Regions from separate parts of the Homo sapiens genome. Here all the other regions are linked to region 1. The links come from fine-mapping of genetic effects on gene expression. A gene starts in region 1. Each other region holds a variant in brackets. All regions are shown on one strand. Distances are between the middles of the regions.

Region 1 (6,447 bases):
TCTCAAGCAAAACAGACAATCTAAAGTTGCTGCTCTGACAGGCTCTCTTCAAATGATTTCCATTTCCTTGGGCAAGAACTCAGAACAAGCTTGTCCAGGATGCATGCGGCCCAGGATGGCTTTGAATGCGGCCCAACACAAATTTGTGAACTTTCTTTTTTTTTTTTTTTTTTTTTTTTTTTGAGAAGGAGTCTCGCTCTGTCACCCAGGCTGGAATGCAATGGCGTGATCTTGGCTCACTGCAAGCTCCGACTCCCGGGTTCATGCCATTCTCCTGCCTCAGCCTCCCGAGTAGCTGAGACCACCGGCACCTGCCACCACGCCTGGCTAATTTTTTGTATTTTTAGTAGAGACGGGGTTTCACCTTGTTAGCCAGGATGGTCTCAATCTCCTGACCCTGTGATCCGCCCATCTCGGCCTCCCAAAGTGCTGGGATTACAGGCGTGAGCCACTGCGCCCAGCCAAATTTGTGAACTTTCTTAAAACATTATGAGATTTTTTTGCAATTTTTTAAAGCTTATCAGCTATGGTTACTGTTAGTCTATTTTAGGTGTGACCCAAAACAACTTTTCATCTTCCAATGTGGCCCTGGGAAGCCAAAAGATTGGACACCCCTGACTTCGGATGTTTATTTTATTTTATTTATTTATTTATTTTGAGACGGAGTCTTGCTCTGTCGCCCAGGCTGGAGTACAGGGGCTCAATCTTGGCTCACTGCAACTTCCTACTCCTGGGTCCAAGCGATTCTCCTGCCTCAGCCCCGAGTAGCTGGGATTACAGGTACCTGCCACCACGCCTGGCTAATTTTTGTATTTTTAGTAGAGATGTGATTTCACAATGTTGGCCAGGCTGGTCTCAAACTCCTGACCTCAAGTGATCCACCCACCTCAGCCTCTGAAAGTGCTGGGATTACAGGCGTGAGCCACCGTGCCCGGCCAAGTTTTGTCTACATTTCTACATGCACTTTTCTGGAGAGAGGTTCTATAGCTCTCAACAGATTCTCAAAGAGTCAAAATTCACTTGCCCCACCCCCACCCCTGTGATTGAACCATTTTAATCAGGATAATTTTTACCTACAAACAACAAAAGTTGTTACCAAAAAGTAAGGTTGTATGGATCCAGTCAGGCTTGCATTTATTTATTTATTTATTTATTTATTTGAGACAGAGTATAGTTCTTTCGCCCCGACTGGAGTGCAGTGGCACAATGATCTCTGCTCACTGCAATCTCAGCCTCCCGGGTTCAAGCAATTATCCTGTCTCAGCCTCCCAAGTAGCTGGGACTACAGGCATGTGCCACCATGCCCGTCTAATATTTGTATTTTTAGTAGAGAGGGGTTTTGCCATGTTGGCCAGGCTGGTCTCGAACTCCTGACCTCAGGTGATCCGCCCACCTCGGCCTCCCAAAGTGCTAGGATTATAGGTGTGAGCCACCGTGCCCAGTCAAGCCAGGCTTTTAATTTCATTCTGTATTCTTTAAATTCTACATTAACAAAATACAATGCTTCATAGTTTGCTAAAACAATGTGTTTTTACAAGACAAACTTTCTACAGTTCCACTTCTTTTTTTTTTTTTTTTTGAGACGGAGTCTCGCGCTGTTGCCCAGGCTGGAGTGCAGTGGCGGGATCTTGGCTCACTGCAAGCTCCGCCTCCCGGGTTCACGCCATTCTCCTGCCTCAGTCTCCCGAGTAGCTGGGACTACAAGCGCCTCCCAGGTTCACGCCATTCTCCTGCCTTAGCCTCCCGAGTAGCTGGGACTGCAGGCGCCTGCCACCACGCCTGGCTAATTTTTTTTTTATTTTTAGTAGAGATAGGGTTTCACCGTGCTAGCCAGGATGGTCTCGATCTCCTCACCTCGTGATCTGCCTGCCTCGGCCTCCCAAAGTGCTAGGATTACAGGCGTGAGCCACCGCGCCCCGCCTACAGTTCCACTTCTTAGAAGACTGTATGGTATGAAAATAATGTACAAGAGTTTGGGTCATAACAATTTACTTTTCTATGTCTCTAATTTTGTTTATATGTTTTGAGAAAGGGTCTTGCTCTGTTCCTCAGGCTGGAATGCAATGAGTAATCACGGCTCACTGCAGTCTCAACCTCCTAGGCTCAAGTGATCCTCCAGCCTCAGCCTCCCCAGAAGCTGCAGGCGTTTGCCACCACACCTGGTTAATTTTTAATTTTTTGTAGAGACAGGTTTGGGGAGGGGGTCCTTAGCACGTTGACTAGGCTGGTCTCGAACTCCTGGGCTCAAACAATCCTCCTGCATAGGCCTCCCAGTGTTGGGATTACAGGCATGAGCCACAGCACCTGGACAATTTCCCAGATATAGTAAACTGCTGAACCACCTTAGGGTGCGTTTCAGCCTTAGAGGTCTTTTCTCTGCTAGTTACAAAGCAAGATCCAGAGTATCATTCTAGGTTTATCAAAAATCTCTCTTCCCTAGACAATGGCTGGATAGAGGAAGAAAAAGCAGGCCCTTTGATTAGAGACACACCTTAATGCTGGCTTTACATTCTCAGTCACGTGTTTTAAGCAAGATTTGAAATTCCTTCTCTAGAGTCTCGCTCCAGAGAGCGCCCTAAACCGAAATGGGAAACTGAGGCTAAGGTTCCAAGTACCTTCAAACCGCCGGTACAGTACAAGGGCACAGAAGAGCGGAGACCGCGGACAAGGAAAGCCAGCATAAAAGCTGGAGGGGAGAAAGAAGAAAGGCGATCGGGCTGCCCTGAGTGAGGAATTCAGGGAAGCCAGCAGGGATTTAAGAGCAGCCTCCCGAGTCCGTGGGGGCAACGCCACAGTTCAGCCCCTTCCCCTCCCTCAGCTCGAGTCTTCCCGCCCCGTGCCGGTCAGCCCGAAGACCCCAGCGCCGCCCAGACCCGCCTTCCCCACAGACCCCGCCACCTGTCAGTGAAAGGCCGCAGCCAGGGGCAAAGAGGTGGTCCAGTGGCTCAGAGGTCCCCAATGGGCCAAAGTTGCCCTAAAACCCGGGGAGTGGCCTCGGCCTCCGCCCCCCGGCCCGGCCTTGCCAAGCTTTACCTTGAGTGCCAGGTGATGGACGCGGCCCAGGCCAGGCTCGGCCAGCAACTGCAGCAAACCCAGCATTGGGAGCAGCCGGAGGCCCGCGGCCAGCCTAGGACCGCGGGAGGCGGGGGAGCCGACGGGCGCCAGAGCGGCCATGTTTGTTCCAGCATCACCAGCCGCTTCCTCTCCCGCCCACGTCCGGGGTGAAAGGGCGCAGCCGCCGGAAGGGCCCGGGGAGCGGGGCTCGGCGGCTAGCTCCGCTGACCCTGTGGTCGTTTTCCTGGAGATTGCGACCTAGGAAGTCGTCGAGGAGCCTGTGCTGCCCACCTCGGGGCCCTTCGATCGGCCGCTCCTGTGCAGACTTTCAGTTAGAGATGAAGCCAACCTATTGGCGGTTGCCATAACAACGGTGGCCGAACCAGACCAGCCCGGGCCGCACCTCCGCCTCGCTGAGCTTTGGAAGCGACCTTGGGCTCCGGGGACCCCTGATCTCAGGGTCGGGGGATAAGCTGTGTCAGCCGCACGGTGTCGGGCCACTGATTGAACTGATTTCACTGAGCGTTGACTCGGAGGAAAATATCTAAAAATTCCCGGCTCGCCGTAGGGGTCCTGTGGTTTTCTAGGCGCTTCACACTCAAATACAAGCGAAATGGTTGCAATAATACGATTGATTGAGCCCTTATGAGGCAATTTGTTAGGCCTTTTGTTGTATTTAATTTTTGGAACAATTTGATGAGCTAGGAGGTACGTATTATCATTATTCCTACTTTACAGGTAAGCAAACTGAGGCTCTGAGAAATAAGTCATTTGCTCCAGGTTGAGCTGGGAATCACACGGAAGCTCTTAACTCCTGTGTTCTGTTGCCTCATGCTATTTCATCCAACCCCAAGTCTGGGTCTTAACATTTTTCTCTTAATTCTGTATGGAAACTTTCTTTGCTTCTTTCAGAAATTATAGGAACTTCTTTTTTTTGAGACGGAGTCTAGCTCTTGTCACCCAGGCTGGAGTGCAATGGCACGATCTCAGCTCACTGCAACCTCCGCCTTCTGGGTTCAAGCGATTCTCCTGCCTCAGCCTCTGGAGTAACTAGAATTACAGGCCTGCGCCACCACGCCCGGCTAATTTTTGTATTTTTAGTAGACACGGGGTTTCTCCCATGTTGGCCAGGCTGGTCTCGAACTCCTGACCTCAAGTTATCCTCCCGCCTCGGCCTCCCAAAGTGCTGGGATTACAGGCGTGAGTCACTGCGCCCAACCTGCTTTGGAGTACTTTTTATCTTTTAAAGTTAAGTGGCATCTTTGAAAATCTCTGGTTTTAAATTTGAATATAATACTGTACTAAAAACGAAATGAGGCCTGGCAGGGTGGTGATTCGCGCCTGAATCCCAGCACTTTGGAACGCCGAGGCGGGCGGATCACTTGAAAGTCAGTTGTTCGGGACCAGCCTGGGCAACATGGCAAAACCTCGTCTCTACTAAAAATACAAAAATTAGCGGGGCATCACGGCCGCGCGCCTGTAGTCCCAGCTACTGGGGAGGCTGAGGCAGGAGAAGCACTTGAACCTGGGAGGCAGAGGTTTCAGTAAGCCAAGATCATGCCACTGCACTCCAGCCTGGGTGACAGAGTGAGACTCTGTCTCAATAAAAAAAAAATCAGGTAAGAATCTTAATCCCATTTTATAATACAATAGTGATGAAACATTAAAATAGTTTTAAATAGGAGACTTTTGTCTTAGTTTCTGGACAACAGTTTTATAAGGGCTTAAAACTGGGTTCATAGCATTCCTTGCTTCTCTATACTTGGGTATTATCATGTGACCTACATAGGGTCATACCAGTGCTGTCTGTCCAGGGGTTTAAGAGGATATCTTCTTCTTTCACATATTTGAAAGCTGTATTGTGCCAGTCATTATTTTGGAATTGAGAGGAATAAGAATGAGGGAAAACTGACTACAAAGACATTGTTGAGCATTTTCTCTACAGTTACTTCTTAAATTCTAGAAAACTGCTGCCTTGACAATTACATTTAGCCATGTGATTTCATAGTTTCAAGAAAAGATTATTTGCATAATCATGATGCTGTAACTGGAAACAAACAGGCTGAGTAACAGAACAAGTTATGCCTGCTTCTCCTGGCAACATTTTCAAAGGGACATTACACTTTAAGGTATTGACTGAAAAAGCCTGCAGGGGCTGGAAAGACTGATCTCCTAAGCTTGGCTTTTAGCCTTACTCTCTTAGTCAAGTACATTTTATTTTTCTATTTTCTCTCCTTTTTTTTTTGAGACAGAGACACTGTTGCCCAGGACTGAGTGCAGTGGTGTGACATCTGTTCACTGTAGTCTCCACCTCCCAGGTTCAAGGGATTCTCATGCCTCAGCCTCCCTAGCTGGGACCACAGGTGTGCGCCAGTATGCTCAGCTAATTTTTGTATTTTTGCTAGAGATGGGGTTTCACCATGTTGGCCAGGCTGGTCTTGAACTCCTGGCCTCAAGTGATCTGCTCACCTCGGCTTACCAAATTGCTGGATTACAGGCGTAAGCCACCCTGCCTGGACTATTTTCTCTAACTTTTCAGGATCAGCTTAAGGTTGCTACTAGAATGTGTAGTGTTGAATCTAGTGCTATTATTATTAAATAATTATTTGATATCGGTTTGGACATTTTCAGAACTCTTTTAAGTAATTAATGTGTTAATAGTCTCCAGTTTAAGAAAGTATAATTGCCATTTGTTTTTCTTATCAAAAGACTTGATAGGCCTGGCTGGTGTCTCATGCCTGTAATCCCAGCACTTTGGGAGGCCAAGGCTGGTGGATAACTTGAGCCCAGGAGTTTGCCACCAGCCTGGGCAACATGGTGAAACACCTTCTCTACAAAAAATACAAAAATTAGGCCAGGGGCGGTGGCTCAGGCCTGTAATCTCAGCACTTTGGGAGGCTGAGGTCAGTGGATCACCTGAGGCCAGGAGTCTGAGACCAGCCTAGCTAACATGGCAAAACCCCATCTCTACTAAAAATACAAAAATTAGCCAGGCATGGTGGCGCATGCCTGTAATCCCAGCTACTCAGGAGGCTGAGACAGGAGAATCGCTTGAACTTGGGAAGCGGAGGTTACAGTGAGCCCAGATTGTACCATTGCACTCCAGCCTGTGTGACAGAGCGAGATTCTGTCTCAAAAAAAAAAAAAATTAGCGAGCATGATTGCACCAATTCACTCCAGCCTGTGCGACAGAGCAAGACTCTGTCTCAAAAACAAAAACAAAAAAACAAAAAAAAAACACAAAAATTAGCGGGCATGGTGACACGCACCTGTAGTCCCAGCTACTCAGGAGGCAGAGAGGTGGTAGGATTGCTTGAGCCCAGGAGTCAACACTGGAGTAAGCCATGACACTTTTATCCAGCTTGGGTGACAGAGCAAGACCCTGTCAAATAA
Region 2 (6,447 bases), 30 kb before region 1:
AATCATCTCTAAAATTACAACATCACCGTAAATCATCATCAATGGTCCTTTCAGAATGGGGTACTATGCTTCTGGCACACTTTGAATGGGAGGTAGCATGGGATTGGGGCAAAGGGGTCATGGGAACAGCCAGGCAGGACTGGGTTGGAAACTGTACCGTGTCACCTACACTAGATAGTCACAAAGTTATTCACTCTCAGAGACTTCTGATTTGATAAGTAGATGGGTAACAATATCCACCTTGTGGGCTTGTTATAAGGAGAGCTACTGCATTTAAGTGACTGATACAGGGCATACCTAAGTTGTTATTCCTAAATTCAAAATTCCTCTAAAAAAAAATTACCCTTTTACATGGTAGAGAGAAATTCTAGGAGGCTTTACACAAAGAGCATACATACCTGAAATGACACTGCCCCACCATTATTATGAACAGAAAAGGATTTCTCTCCCATGGCCTAAAAAGACATAATAGTATGTTTTAGGATGACACCGGCATAGAAGCATGCTAATTAAAAGTAATTTATTAAACAAAACAAAACATGTTTCTTAAACTCTAAATTTGCTGACCTTCAAAAAAGCTCTCTGAAAATAAAACCAACTATCCTTTCGAGATGGCTGAAATCTGCTTTCACAGAGAATGGTAGTTGTTCTTCACCTGTCTCTTCTGCCTCTGCACTAACCCCTACCTCCACCCCCTGCCTTGAATCTTTCGGCTAGACAGCTTGTCTACCCTTGAAGCTTCAGTCAGACTAAGGGTGCTGACCCAGGCCATGCCCTGTTACATCCCCTGAATTCCACTCCTGACATCAAATGACCAAAATATTGGCCAGGCACAGTGGCTCACGCCTGTAATCCCAACATATTGGGAGGCCAAGGTGGGCAGATCACTTGAGGTCAGGAGTTCAAGACCAGCCTGGCCAACAAGGTGAAACCCCATCTCTACTAAAAATACAAAAATCAGCCAGGCGTGGTGGTGCGTGTCTATAATCCCAGCTACTCCGGAGGCTGAGGCAGGAGAACTGCTTGAACCTGGGAGGTGGAGGTTGAGATCGTGCCACTGCACTCCAGCCTGGGTGGTAGAGCAAGACTGCGTTCCCCCCGGCAAAAAAAAAAAAAAAAATCAAAATATTGCCATTTATACAGTAAAACTGAGCAATGAAAAGAAATGATACATGCAACAATGTGGATGAACTCAAAGTAATTATGCTGAATATAAGACAGAAAAGAGTGCTGCATAATTCAGTTATATGAAGTTCTATAAAACTAATCTATACCCCAGTGACAGATCAGTGATTGCTTGGGGACAGGGGGCTTACAAAAAGGCAGAAGAAATTTTTGGGGTGATGGATATTTCACTACCTTGATTGATAAGTCAAAGTTATCAGATTGCTGCTTTACATATCTACAGTTTATTTTAGGTCAATTATACTTCAACAAAGCTGTTAAGACAAAACATCACCATTTAGATGTCCCCCTCATGGAGAAATCAAGATATCGCCAACCAAAACTTTCCCAGTTTTTCCACTTCTGCTATTTCTACGACCCACTCCTCTGCTCCTCTCTTTCCCTCCCATGACCCTAACTGGCTTCCCAGTCGTTTACCATCCAAGGCTCTGCTCTAGTCCAGATCCTCATCACCCGAAACCTGTATTCTCACAACTGTGTCCTTCCTGGTCCTTCTAACAACCCTTTCTCCTTCTCCAAGGCTACCCTTCACGTCACTTTCAGAATTATGATCTTTAATAAACAGTCTTTCCCAATCAGGAACTCAGGATGACTTCCCGTAGCCTGCTCATCAATTCCTCTATTGCTTGGCCCTATATTATCTAAGACCTCTCTCTGCTCCCAAATATGTGTCTTTTACTTCAAACGAGCCAGTGCTCAGCATTTGTCATCATCCAGTCTTTGCGTATGGCATTCTTCCTCCCCTCCCTTGTCTTTCTCTTCCCTGAACAAACTCCAGACTCAGCCCCGGCGACAGCTCCTTCCAGAGGGCTTTTCTGATGGTTTGGCATCTTCCTTCCCTAACTACCTGATCCTACATCATGTAAGTGCTGTGCAACTTAGAAATCAATTTTCTTTTCCTTTTTTTTTTTTTTGAGACAGGGTCTCACTCTGTCACCCAGGCTAGAGTGAAGTGGCACAATCATAGCTCACTGTAGCCTTAGCCTCCCAGGCTCAGGTGATCCTTCCACCTCAGCCTCCAGAACAGCTGCGACCACAGGCGCATACCACCATGCCCGCTAATTTTCTATTTTTTGTAGAGATAAGGTTTCGCCATGTAGCCCAGGCTGGTCTTGAACTCCTGGGCTCAATTAATCCACCCACCTCAGCCTCCCACAGTGCTGGGATTACAGGCGCAAGCCACCATGCCCAGCCAGGAATCAATTGTCCTTTGAAATTGTTTCAGTATGTCAATGCTCTCCCCCAAAATAGGAGACAATTCCCTGTAGATTTTTTTTTTTTT[TTA/A]ACTTTTTTTGAGATAGTCTCACTCTGTCACCCAGGCTGGAGTGCAGTAGCGCGATCTTGGCTCACTGAAGCCTCTGCCTCCCAGGTTCAAGTGATTCTCCTGCCTCAGCCTCCCAAGTAGCTGGGATTACAAGCATGCACCACCAAGCCCAGCTAATTTTTGTATTTTTAGTAGAGACAGAGTTTCACTATGTTGGCCAGGCTGGTCTCGAACTCCTGATCTCAAGTGATCCCCCAACCTCAACCTCCCAAAGTGCTGGGATTACGGCATGAACCACCACATCTGGCCCCCTGTAGATGAGATATGCGTGTGTGTGTATGTATGTATGTGTGTACATATATATATATATATATATATGTTAGCTCTCTGTATTGCAGGTTCCACATCTGCAGATTGAACCAACTGCCAACCAAAAATATTTTTTAAAATAAGATGAAAAAGTAATAGTAATAAATAACATAAATAAAAATCCAACACAGTGTAACAACTATTTACAAAGCATTTACGTTGTATTAGGTATCATGAGTACTCCAGAGATGATTTAAAGTACACAGGAGGATGTGTGTAGGTTATGTGTAAATACTATGCCATTTTATATAAGAGACATGAGCATCTACTGATTTTGATATTCACTAGGGTTCCTGTAACCAATCCCCTGTGGTCACCAAGGGACGACTGTATATGTATGTGTCTGTGCATGCATGTATGTATATATATCAATACACACACACACATGCATATAACACACACACGTACACACATATCCAGAAAAGCTGAGCACAAAAGGGTGGTTAGTTCTTACCTTTGAATCCACTGTACTTCTTTTAGACTTTCCACCATCTAGAAGCAAGAACATTTAAAAGAGAGTGCTGCATGACTCAACTTACAGATACATATATATATTACAGTATCATTTTATGAGGCTTCAGCTTGTCTAATATCAAATAATTAAACAAAATAATCTTGGGGACTGCCATTTCCTCAGGTCCCAAAACATAATTCTTGTACTGTCGAAGCAGCAAATTAGACCTTGTTATATTATAAATGGTATCTAGTAACCGGTAATAGTAACAACAGAATTCATTTCTGGATATTCTAGCTTATGTTATTGCCAGAGAGGCCACATGGAATGACTTCCTAATTTTCTAAGTAATCACATTTGAAAACACAATTTTTAAGAAGAAGGCCAGGTGCGGTGGCTCATGCCTGCAATCCCAACACTTTGGGAGGCTGAGGCAGGTGGATCACCTGAGGTCAGGAGTTTGAGACCAGCCTGGCCAACCTGGCGAACCCCCATCTCTACTAAAAATACAAAAATTAGTCGGGCATGGTGGTGCATGCCTGTAATCCCAGCTACTCGGGAGGCTGACACAGGAGAATCCCTTGAACCCAAAAGGTGTAGGCTGCAGTGAGCTGAGATCATACCACTGCACTCCAGCCTGGGTGACAGAGCGAGACTCCATCTCAAAAAGAAAAACATGAGATACATTTACACACTTGAAAAAGTTAACAGCAAGTAATATTAGCATAATGATACTTTCCTCCCTACAGCAAGAAGATTGCTAATGGCTTCTTTCATGGAACAGAGTGGGCATCTATCTTTTGTTTTCACTTAAGATATTCTTGGGCTGGGTGCGGTGGCTCATGCCTATAATCCCAGCACTTTGGGAGGCTGAGATGGGCGGATCATGAGGTCAGGAGATTGAGACCATCCTGGCTAACATGGTGAAACCCCGTCTCTACTAAAAAATACAAAAAAATTAGCCACGTGGTGGCAGGTGCCTATAGTCCCAGTTACTCGGGAGGCTGAGGCAGGAGAATGGCGTGAACCTGGGAGGTGGAGCTTGCAGTGAGCCGAGATCGCGCCACTGCACTCCAGCCTGGGAGACAGAGCAAGACTCCGTCTAAAAAAAAAAAAAAAAAAAAAAAAGATATTCTTTTTGGGAAAGACTGGACTTCAGGCTCCCTGCAGGAAGGAAGAGAATAAAGAGAAAGAAAAGAATATTTTCTTCCCAGAGAACGGTGATATGAGCACAAAGAAGCCAGACAAGAAGCAGATGGTGCACAGGCATTAACCTACACCATTGCACAAATGCAGTCTTTCTGTGTGGCTTTTAACTGCAGTCAAGTTGGACAGACTGAACGACATAGTTTAGATGTCTGTCCCCTCCAAATCTCATGTGGAAAGGCAGTCCCCAGTGTTGGATGTGAGGGCTAGTGTGAGGTATCTGAGTCATGAGGACATATCCCTCATGAATGGCTGGTGCCCTCCTTGTGGTAAGGAGTGAGTTCTTGCTCCGAGTTCAGGCATGATCTGGTTGTTTAAAAGAGTGTGGCACCTCCCCACTCTCTCTTGCTCCTGCTCTCGCCATGTGACCTGCCTGCTCCTTCTTGCCTTCTGCCATGATTGGAAGCTTCCTGAGGCCCTCACCAGGAGTAGATTCCGGCGCCATGCTTTGTATAGCCTGCAGAACTGTGAGGCAATTAGACAATTAAACCTCTTCTTTTTTTGTTGTTGTTGTTGTTTTTCGGTGGTGGTGGTTGGTTTTGAGACAGGCTCTCACTCTGTCACCCAGGCTGGAGTGCAGTGGCGCAATCTCGGCTCACTGCAGCCTCTGTCTCCTGGGTTCAAGAAATTCTTTTGCCTCAGCCTCCCCAACAGTTGGGACTACAGGCGCATGCCACCACATCCGGCTAATTTTTGTGTTTTTTGTTTTTTGTTTTTTTTTTTTTGAGACAGAGTCTCACTCTGTCGCCAGGCTGGAGTGCAGTGGTGCGATCTTGGCTCACTGCGAACTCCATCTCCCTGGTCCAAGCAATTCTCCTGCCTCAGTCTCCTGAGTAGCTGAGATCACAGGCACGTGCCACCATGCCCGGCTAATTTTTTGTATTTTTAGTAGAGACGGGGTTTCACCATGTTGGCCAGGATGGTCTCAATCTCTTGACCTTGTGATCTGCCCACCTCGGCTTCCCAAAGTGCTGGGATTACAGGCGTGAGCCACCACACCCGGCCTAATTTTTGTATTTTTAGTAGAGATGGGGTTTCACCATGTTGGCCAGGCTGGTCTTGAACTCCTGACCTCAAGTAATCTGCCCGCCTTGGCCTCTCAAAGTGCTGGGATTACAGGGATGAACCACCATGCCCAGCCTCCTTTGAGAAAAACATTGTATAAGCAGTAAGTATGTATGTATTTATTTCGGAGACAGGGTCTTGTTCTGTCATCCAGGCTGCAGTGCATCACGGCTCAATGTGGCCTAGACCAGTCACATTCAAGCAATCCTCCTGCCTCAGTCTCTTGAGGAGTTGTGACTACAGGCACATGCCACTACGCATGGCTAATTTTTTTATTTTTATTTTTGCAGAGACAGGGCCTCGCTATGTTGCTCAGGCTGGTACAAGCTCCTAGACTCAAGTGATCCTCCCACTTTGGCCTCCCAAAGTGCTGGGATTATAGGCGTGAGCCACTGCACCTGGCCATAAATTATCTTTAAAGAACTCACATGAATCATCAGATGAACCTGACAGTTAATAAAAAATGGTGAATATAAATTGGTTAATCAACACATGGAGAAAAAGTACAGTCTCAGTAATAAGAGTAAATATAAATAAACAGGGCCGGGCGCAGTGGCTCACGCCTGTAATCCCAGCACTTTGGGAGGCCGAGGCGGGCGGATCACGAGGTCGGGAGATCGAGACCATCCTAGCTAACACCGTGAAACCCTGTCTCTACTAAAAATACAAAAAATTAGCCGGGCATGGTGGCGGGCGCCTGTAGTCCCAGCTACTTGGGAGGCTGAGGCAGGAGAATGGCGTGAACCCGGGAGGCGGAGCTTGCAGTGAGCCGAGATTGCGCCACTGTACTCCAGCCTGGGCGACAGAGCGAGACTCCGTCTCAAAAAATAAATAAATAAATAAATAAATAAATAAATAAACAGGAATACCTTTTTTGCCTTTCATTTTAGGATTTTGTTTTTTG
Region 3 (6,447 bases), 20 kb before region 1:
TTAGCATACTACTAAATTCTCCCCGACTCTACTCTAGGACTGAACTGAAGGAACTTTAGAATTACTTACTCACTTCTGGAGATGTCTAGGATTAAAAGGGTGACAGAGACAGACTGTTTCTTTAAAATACAGTAATTCACATCTTCATCCTGAGAAAGGAAGAGCCAATTGTACATCATCTTATTCATTCACACTAGAACAAGAACAGAGTTTTCAGGAACATAGCAAATACGTGGCTCAAACTCCATTCAAAATAGTAAACCGGTGGGCGTGGTGGCTCACGCCTGTAATCCCAGCACTTTGGGAGGCCGAGGTGGGTGGATCGTGAGGTCAGGAGATCGAGACCATCCTGGCCAACATGGTGAAACCACGTCTCTACTAAAAATACAAAAATTAGCCAGGTGTGGTGGCGGGCACCTGCAGTCCCAGCTACTCAGGAGGATGAGGCAGAAGAATCACTTGAACGAGGGAGGCGGAGGTTGCAGTGAGCCAAGATCACACCATTGCACTCCAGCCTCGGCAACAAGAGTGAGACTCTGTCTCAAAAAAAAAAACAAAAAACAAAAGTAAACCAACTGTGGGTTCTCAAAAATGCTTGGAAGTCAAAGCAGCCACTACCTCAAGAAATGGCGCTGTGGCCAGGCGTGGTGCTCACGCCTGCAGTCCTAGCACTCTGGGAGGCCACAGTGGGTGGATCCCTTGAGTCCAGGAGTTTGAGACATGGCCAACAAAATGTGAAACCCTGTCTCTACTAAAAATACAAAAATTAGGCAGGCGTGGTGGCACACGCTGGTAGTCCCAGCTACTCAGGGGACTGAGGCGGGAGGATCGCTTAAGCCTGGGAGGTCAAGGTTGCAGTGAGCTATGATTGTGCCACCGTACTCCAAAAAAAAAATGAAAATGGAACTGCAAGAAGTAGGGTGTTCCCGTTCAATGGCCTGGGCTCAGGTGAAGAGATGAATCAGGTCACACATTTAATACTCACCAGGTAAGAAGAAAAGCCATCATTCTTTGTACGGTCTAGGCTAAATCCAATCTAATGGGGAGTAAAAACAGTAGAAGTAAATATCTACACAATTGTCCATACTTTTCTTACTCAAAAAGCAGAAAAAGTGGTACTTCTAACGTGGTCTCCTCTGTTTTCTTAGCATTCATTTTGTAAGAAGGCAAAGTAAAATCACTCAAGCAAAGTCACTAATTACTAGAATTATTACAGAATTACATTTTAAGTGTTAAAAGTGAAATTATTTGATGCCTGATATATAATTTGCTACTCACATGCTTAATTATCTCCATATTCTGGTATTTTATATTTAAGCATTGGGGTTGGAAGGTGACTCTCACCTAAGCTAAAAGAGTAAACCCCTGGGCTGGGCGCAGTGGCTCACACCTGTAATCCCAGCACTTTGGGAGGCCAAGGCGGGTGGATCACGAGGTCAGGAATTCAAGACCAGCCTGGCCAAGTTGGTGAAACCCCGTCTCTACTAAAAATACAAAAATTAGACGGTCATGGTGGTGGGTGCCTGTAATCCCAGCTACTCGGGAGGCTGAGGCAGAGAACTGCTTGAACCCGGGAGGTGGAGGTTGCAGTGAGCTGAGATTGCGCCACCGCACTCCAGCCTGGGTGACAGAGCAAGACTCCATCTCAAAAAAAAAAAAAAAAGAGTAAACCCCTGGATCTCATTAAAAGGTACTTACAGTCACATCCTTGTCTTCAGGCTCATTCAGTGAGAGGCTACTGACATTCACCACCATGTACCCATCCTTGAAGAAGCCAAAGGTGTTCAGATGAACTTTATGCCTCACATCATCCTAAAGAGATTTGTAGTGGTGGAATTAGTCATATGGAAAAGTGCTTTTGATTATTTAACCTATTCATTTGCTTTAAAAAGTATGATATCAGGCTGGGCACGGTGGCTCAAGCCTGTAATCCCACCACTTTGGGAGACTGAGGCGGGTGGATCACCTGAGGTCAGGAGTTTGAGACCACACTGGCCAACATGGCGAAACCCTGTCTCTACTAAAAATACAAAAAGTTAGCCGGGCATGGTGGCGGGCACCTGTAATCCCAGCTACTTGGGAAGCTGAGCCAGCAGAATTGCTTGAACCTGGGAGGTGGAGGTTGCAGTGAGCCGAGATCATGCCACTGCACTCTAGCTTGGGTGACGGAGCAAGACTCTGTCTCAAAAAAAAAAAAAAAAAAAAAGGTAAAAGAAAAGAAGAGAAAAACTATGATATCTTATTTCTTGCTAGCCAGCCAATGTTTCCATATGCTCAGTAACATACACAGCTGTGGTAACATGTCTTTCTCCAAAAGCTGAAGACAACTCATCGGAAATCCAAAAGATATCAACAGTTTCTGCAGAAGGAAGTATTCAATGGATTCAAATTCACTCCAATGCATTGGTATGGGTTCTAGGGGCAAACTCAGTGGTTGGCTGAAATGTGAATTCCAGGGCAGGAGGAACCATGTTATCGTCATCCCCACATCCTTCCTGATAGTACAATGCCTGGCATCTAGTAGGCACTCAAAACATGCTGGGGGGTGGGGAGGAAGAAAAGGAGCGGCTGAAGCTGTTCCAAGAATACACTCATTTATATAAATCCTCTTATCAATTTGTGTGTACCTGGCTCCTCCCATTGGCAGGATAAAGAATGAAGCTAAGCTATAAGTCAATTATTTAAAAAGGTGAATTTTCACCTAAAAGTGATACAGTAGATGATGGGTTTTCAGGGAACAAAGCCTTATGCAAGAGGAATCCCAGGAATAGGAATTAGCGACATGGAGACAGAGTCTTTTGGATACAAGATAATCCTAAGGTTTGGTGAGACTGAATCACATGGGCAGACG[C/T]CTACCCCACCTGCTTGATGCTGTCTCAACATCCTGACTCCAATCTCAACTAAGTCAGTACACTGCAGGGCCAACAGAGCAATGGTGTCAGTGAACACTTCTAAAACTGGGCTTCCACAAACACACTTTATGTTGTGTAACAATTTTTATATTGAGATTTGGCTAAATTGCAACACCTTCCGTAAGTCTGCAATTTGATTCTTGGTGTGAAGGGTAACTTTTTATTTCTAGATTTGGGGTTTCCTGGACATCCCGGGTAGTCTAATGGCAAACACCAAAGGCCTGTGAGGACAGGCTGTGGAGCAGATCTTTGGCAGAAACAGCATAAACTAAATCCCCTCCTCTCCCCCACAGAACTACACCACACTGCACTATCACTAGCAGGATTTTCTTTCCTGCCCACTCTTGCATTCATAGCTTTTTGACAGCCCTAGATTATGGGCTGAGAAGCAGAGGGACACAGTTCCAACTCACCTCCCTGCTCAGGCCTAAGGCTATGGTCCCTGTTTCCCCTCAACATCTGTTAAAAACCCAGGACTCGGCCGGGCGTGGTGGCTCACGCCTGTAATCCCAGCACTTTGGGAGGCCGAGGCAGGAGGATCACTTGGGGTCAGGAGTTCGAGACCAGCCTGGCCAAAATGGGAAACCCTGTCTCTACTAAAAATACAAAAAAATTAGCCGGGCATTGTGGCACATGCCTGTAATCCCAGCTACTTGGGAGGCTGAGGCAGGAGAATCACTTGAACCCGGGAAGCAGAGGTTGCAGTGAGCCGAGATCGTGCCATGGCACTCCAGCCTGGGTGACACAGTGAGACTCTGTCTCAAAAACAACAACAACAAACAAACAAAACAAACAAAAAACCCAGGCCTCTGGGCTTCAAGTTTCTGCAACGTCACAGGGAAGCCCTGGCTTCCCTGTTCTTTCCCCAATGGAGTTTCAGCTCCTTCTTCCCTTTTTTGGGCCCCTGGGAATTTCCCTTATTTTCTTAGGAGCTTGGCTATGTGGTGAAAACATGTTTGCTGGATTTCCACTTCCTGGTGGGCTGGAGTGGCTTGCAGCAAACCAACATTCTCACAGAGAACAATTAGAAAAGCCAGATAAGATAACAGAGGTCATCTCCTGGAATCTACAAGAGTGGGTCAATGGTAAAAGCCAGAAAAGCTAAGGCTCCCAGCCTTTCTTGGAATTCTCTGAGAGAATTAAACCCACGGAAAATGTCTTCAGTATCTATTTTCTCAATTCTCTCAAGGACAGTATATGATGACTACCCTCCTAGAGGCACAGGAGACATTAACTCAACTACATAAATGGATGCCTTAGCACATTAGGGCTTCATTCTCTGGCAGAATCCTCAGTGGAGCAGGACTGCAGAGGGAGAGGATGAGGGAAAATGAACACACAATTTCTGCCACATAAAACAACGTATATGAATCACAGCCATATTCATGTAAAACAAACTGGAATGCAGGGGGAAATCATCTGTGGTGACGGAGGTGAAGACAGTGACCACTCTCAGGAGAAAGGGGCTTTCCTGGGACTTGAGGGAAGGTGAGGCTTAGGGTGCTTCTGGAGGGGCTTGGTAATGGTTCTGCCTCATTTCCTGCGGGCTGCATGAGTGTGTCTACGTTCTGGAAATGCGCTGAGTTGTTTGCTTATAATGAGTAATTTTTAGCCATGTATATTACATTTCAATAAAGTTTTAATTTTAAAAGTATGTCTTTTCTAATTGGTCCAGCATGAAGCTGCTTTGCAGCAGAATGGAAACCTGCTAGGCTTTCATTTATACTTAGGCCACCACAATACAGGTTTTCTTGTTGTTTTGTTTTTTTTTTCCAGAAAATGTTTCGATTGCAACCTGATAGCAGTTCCCCCCCCAACATAAATAGTACATTCCTTTTTTTTAAACCTTTGCATCATCATTTCATTTGATGATACAATGCCATGAAAAACAGGTTTTTGAAGACTATTTTAAACAATAAAAACAGCATCGGCTGGGCACGATGGCTCATGGCAGTAATCCCAGCACTTTGGGAGGCCAAAGCAGGCAGATCACCTGAGGTCAAGAGTTCGAGATCAAGGCCGGGCGCGGTGGCTCACACCTGTAATCCCGGCACTTTGGGAGGCCGAGGCAGGCAGATCACAAGGTCAGGAGATTGAGACCATCCTGGCTAACACGGTGAAACCTCATCTGTACTAAAAACACAAAAAATTAGCTGGGCGAGGTGGCACGCGCCTGTAGTCCCAGCTACTCGGGAGGCTGAGGCAGGAGAATGGCGTGAACCCCAGGGGGCGGAGCCTGCAGTGAGCCGAGATCACGCCACTGCACTCCAGCCTGGGCGACAGCGAGACTCCATCTCAAAAAAAAAAAAAAATTAAATAAATAAAAAAATAAATAAATAGAAAGAGTTCAAGATCAGCCTGGCCAACATGGTGAAACCCCATATCTACTAAATACAAAAATTAGCCAGGTGTGGTGGTGTGTGCCTGTAATCCCAGCTACTTGGTAGGCTGAGGCAGAAGTGCTTGAACCGAGGAGGCAGAGGCTGCAGGGAGCCGGGTTGTACCACTGCACTCCAGTCTGGGAAACAGAGCAAGACTGTCTCAAAAATAATAATAATAAGGCTGGATTACGCCTGTAATCCCAGCACTTTGGGAGGCCGCGGCGGACGGATCACCTGAGGTCAGGAGTTTGAGACCAGCCTGGCCAACATGGTGAAACCCCGTCTCTACTAAAAGTACAAAAATAAGCCAGGCTTGCTGGCAGGCATCTGTTAATCCCAGCTACTTGGGAGGCTGAGGCAGGAGAATCGCCTGAACCTGGGAGGCAGAGGTTGCAGTAAGCGGAGATTGCACCATTGCACTCCAGCCTGGGGGACAAGAGCAAGACTTTATCGCAAAAAACAAAACAAAACAAAAATAGTAATAATAATAATAATGATAATAACAACAGCATCACAACTCCCAGTTTTCAGAGTCTTCCAAGAACTAGGTTATGTGCCAAGGGCTTTACCTATGATTTCTGACCCTCGCTCAGCTCAGTGTGGTTAAGAGAAGCAGCCCCACGGTAGCGATGAAGACACCAGTTCAGAGGAGAAATGACTACCTGAGGCCAAGCAGACTATAGCTAATAAAGCTGGGGCTTCAAACTAGATCTGATATGAGAGCCATTTTCACATTATCATTTCCTAACAAGGGAAAGTAATCATGATACAACATTAAATGTAAAAAGCTATATTCAGTAACATTTGATAGAAAAAAAAAGGGTGAGGGGCCAGGCGAGGTGGCTCTCGCCTATAATCCCAACATTTTGGGAGACTGAGGCAGGCAGACTGCTTGAGCCCAGGAGTTTGAAACCACCCTAGGCAACAGAGAAACCCCATCTCTAGCAAAAAAAAAAAAAAAAATTAGCCAGTTGTGGTGGCATCCTAGCTATTCAGGAGGCTGAAGTGGGACGATTGCTTTAGCCCAGGATGTCGAGGCTGCAGTGGGCTGGGACTGCATCACTGCACTCCAGCCTGCGCCACAGAGTGTGACTCTGTCTCAAAAAAAAAAAAAAAAAAGAAAAAAAAAAAGTTAGGACTGGGCCTGGTGACTC

The links. PIP is the estimated chance that this variant, and not a neighbour inherited with it, causes the effect.
Region 2: its variant is the best candidate, but not a certain one, in a credible set for the expression of GPR107 in whole blood (INTERVAL, PIP 0.61).
Region 3: its variant is the best candidate, but not a certain one, in a credible set for the expression of GPR107 in skeletal muscle (GTEx, PIP 0.74).

What each region holds. Positions count from the first base shown.
Region 1 is chr9:130,050,660-130,057,106 of GRCh38, reverse strand. It overlaps GPR107 (G protein-coupled receptor 107), which reads right to left and starts at 3,201. Exons shown (of 18, transcript NM_020960.5): 1 at 3,034-3,201. The coding sequence starts at 3,174. It also overlaps a transcript of FNBP1 not described here. RefSeq lists a silencer at 2,904-3,213.
Region 2 is chr9:130,080,428-130,086,874 of GRCh38, reverse strand. GPR107 (G protein-coupled receptor 107) reads right to left here. Exons shown (of 18, transcript NM_020960.5): 6 at 3,273-3,310; 7 at 399-455. Among named protein-coding and RNA genes, the nearest start is that of GPR107, 30 kb to the right of the region's middle. The variant TTA/A (reference allele first, on the strand shown) is at 2,468.
Region 3 is chr9:130,071,001-130,077,447 of GRCh38, reverse strand. It overlaps GPR107 (G protein-coupled receptor 107), which reads right to left. Exons shown (of 18, transcript NM_020960.5): 2 at 1,699-1,812; 3 at 986-1,036; 4 at 70-149. Among named protein-coding and RNA genes, the nearest start is that of GPR107, 20 kb to the right of the region's middle. The variant C/T (reference allele first, on the strand shown) is at 2,852.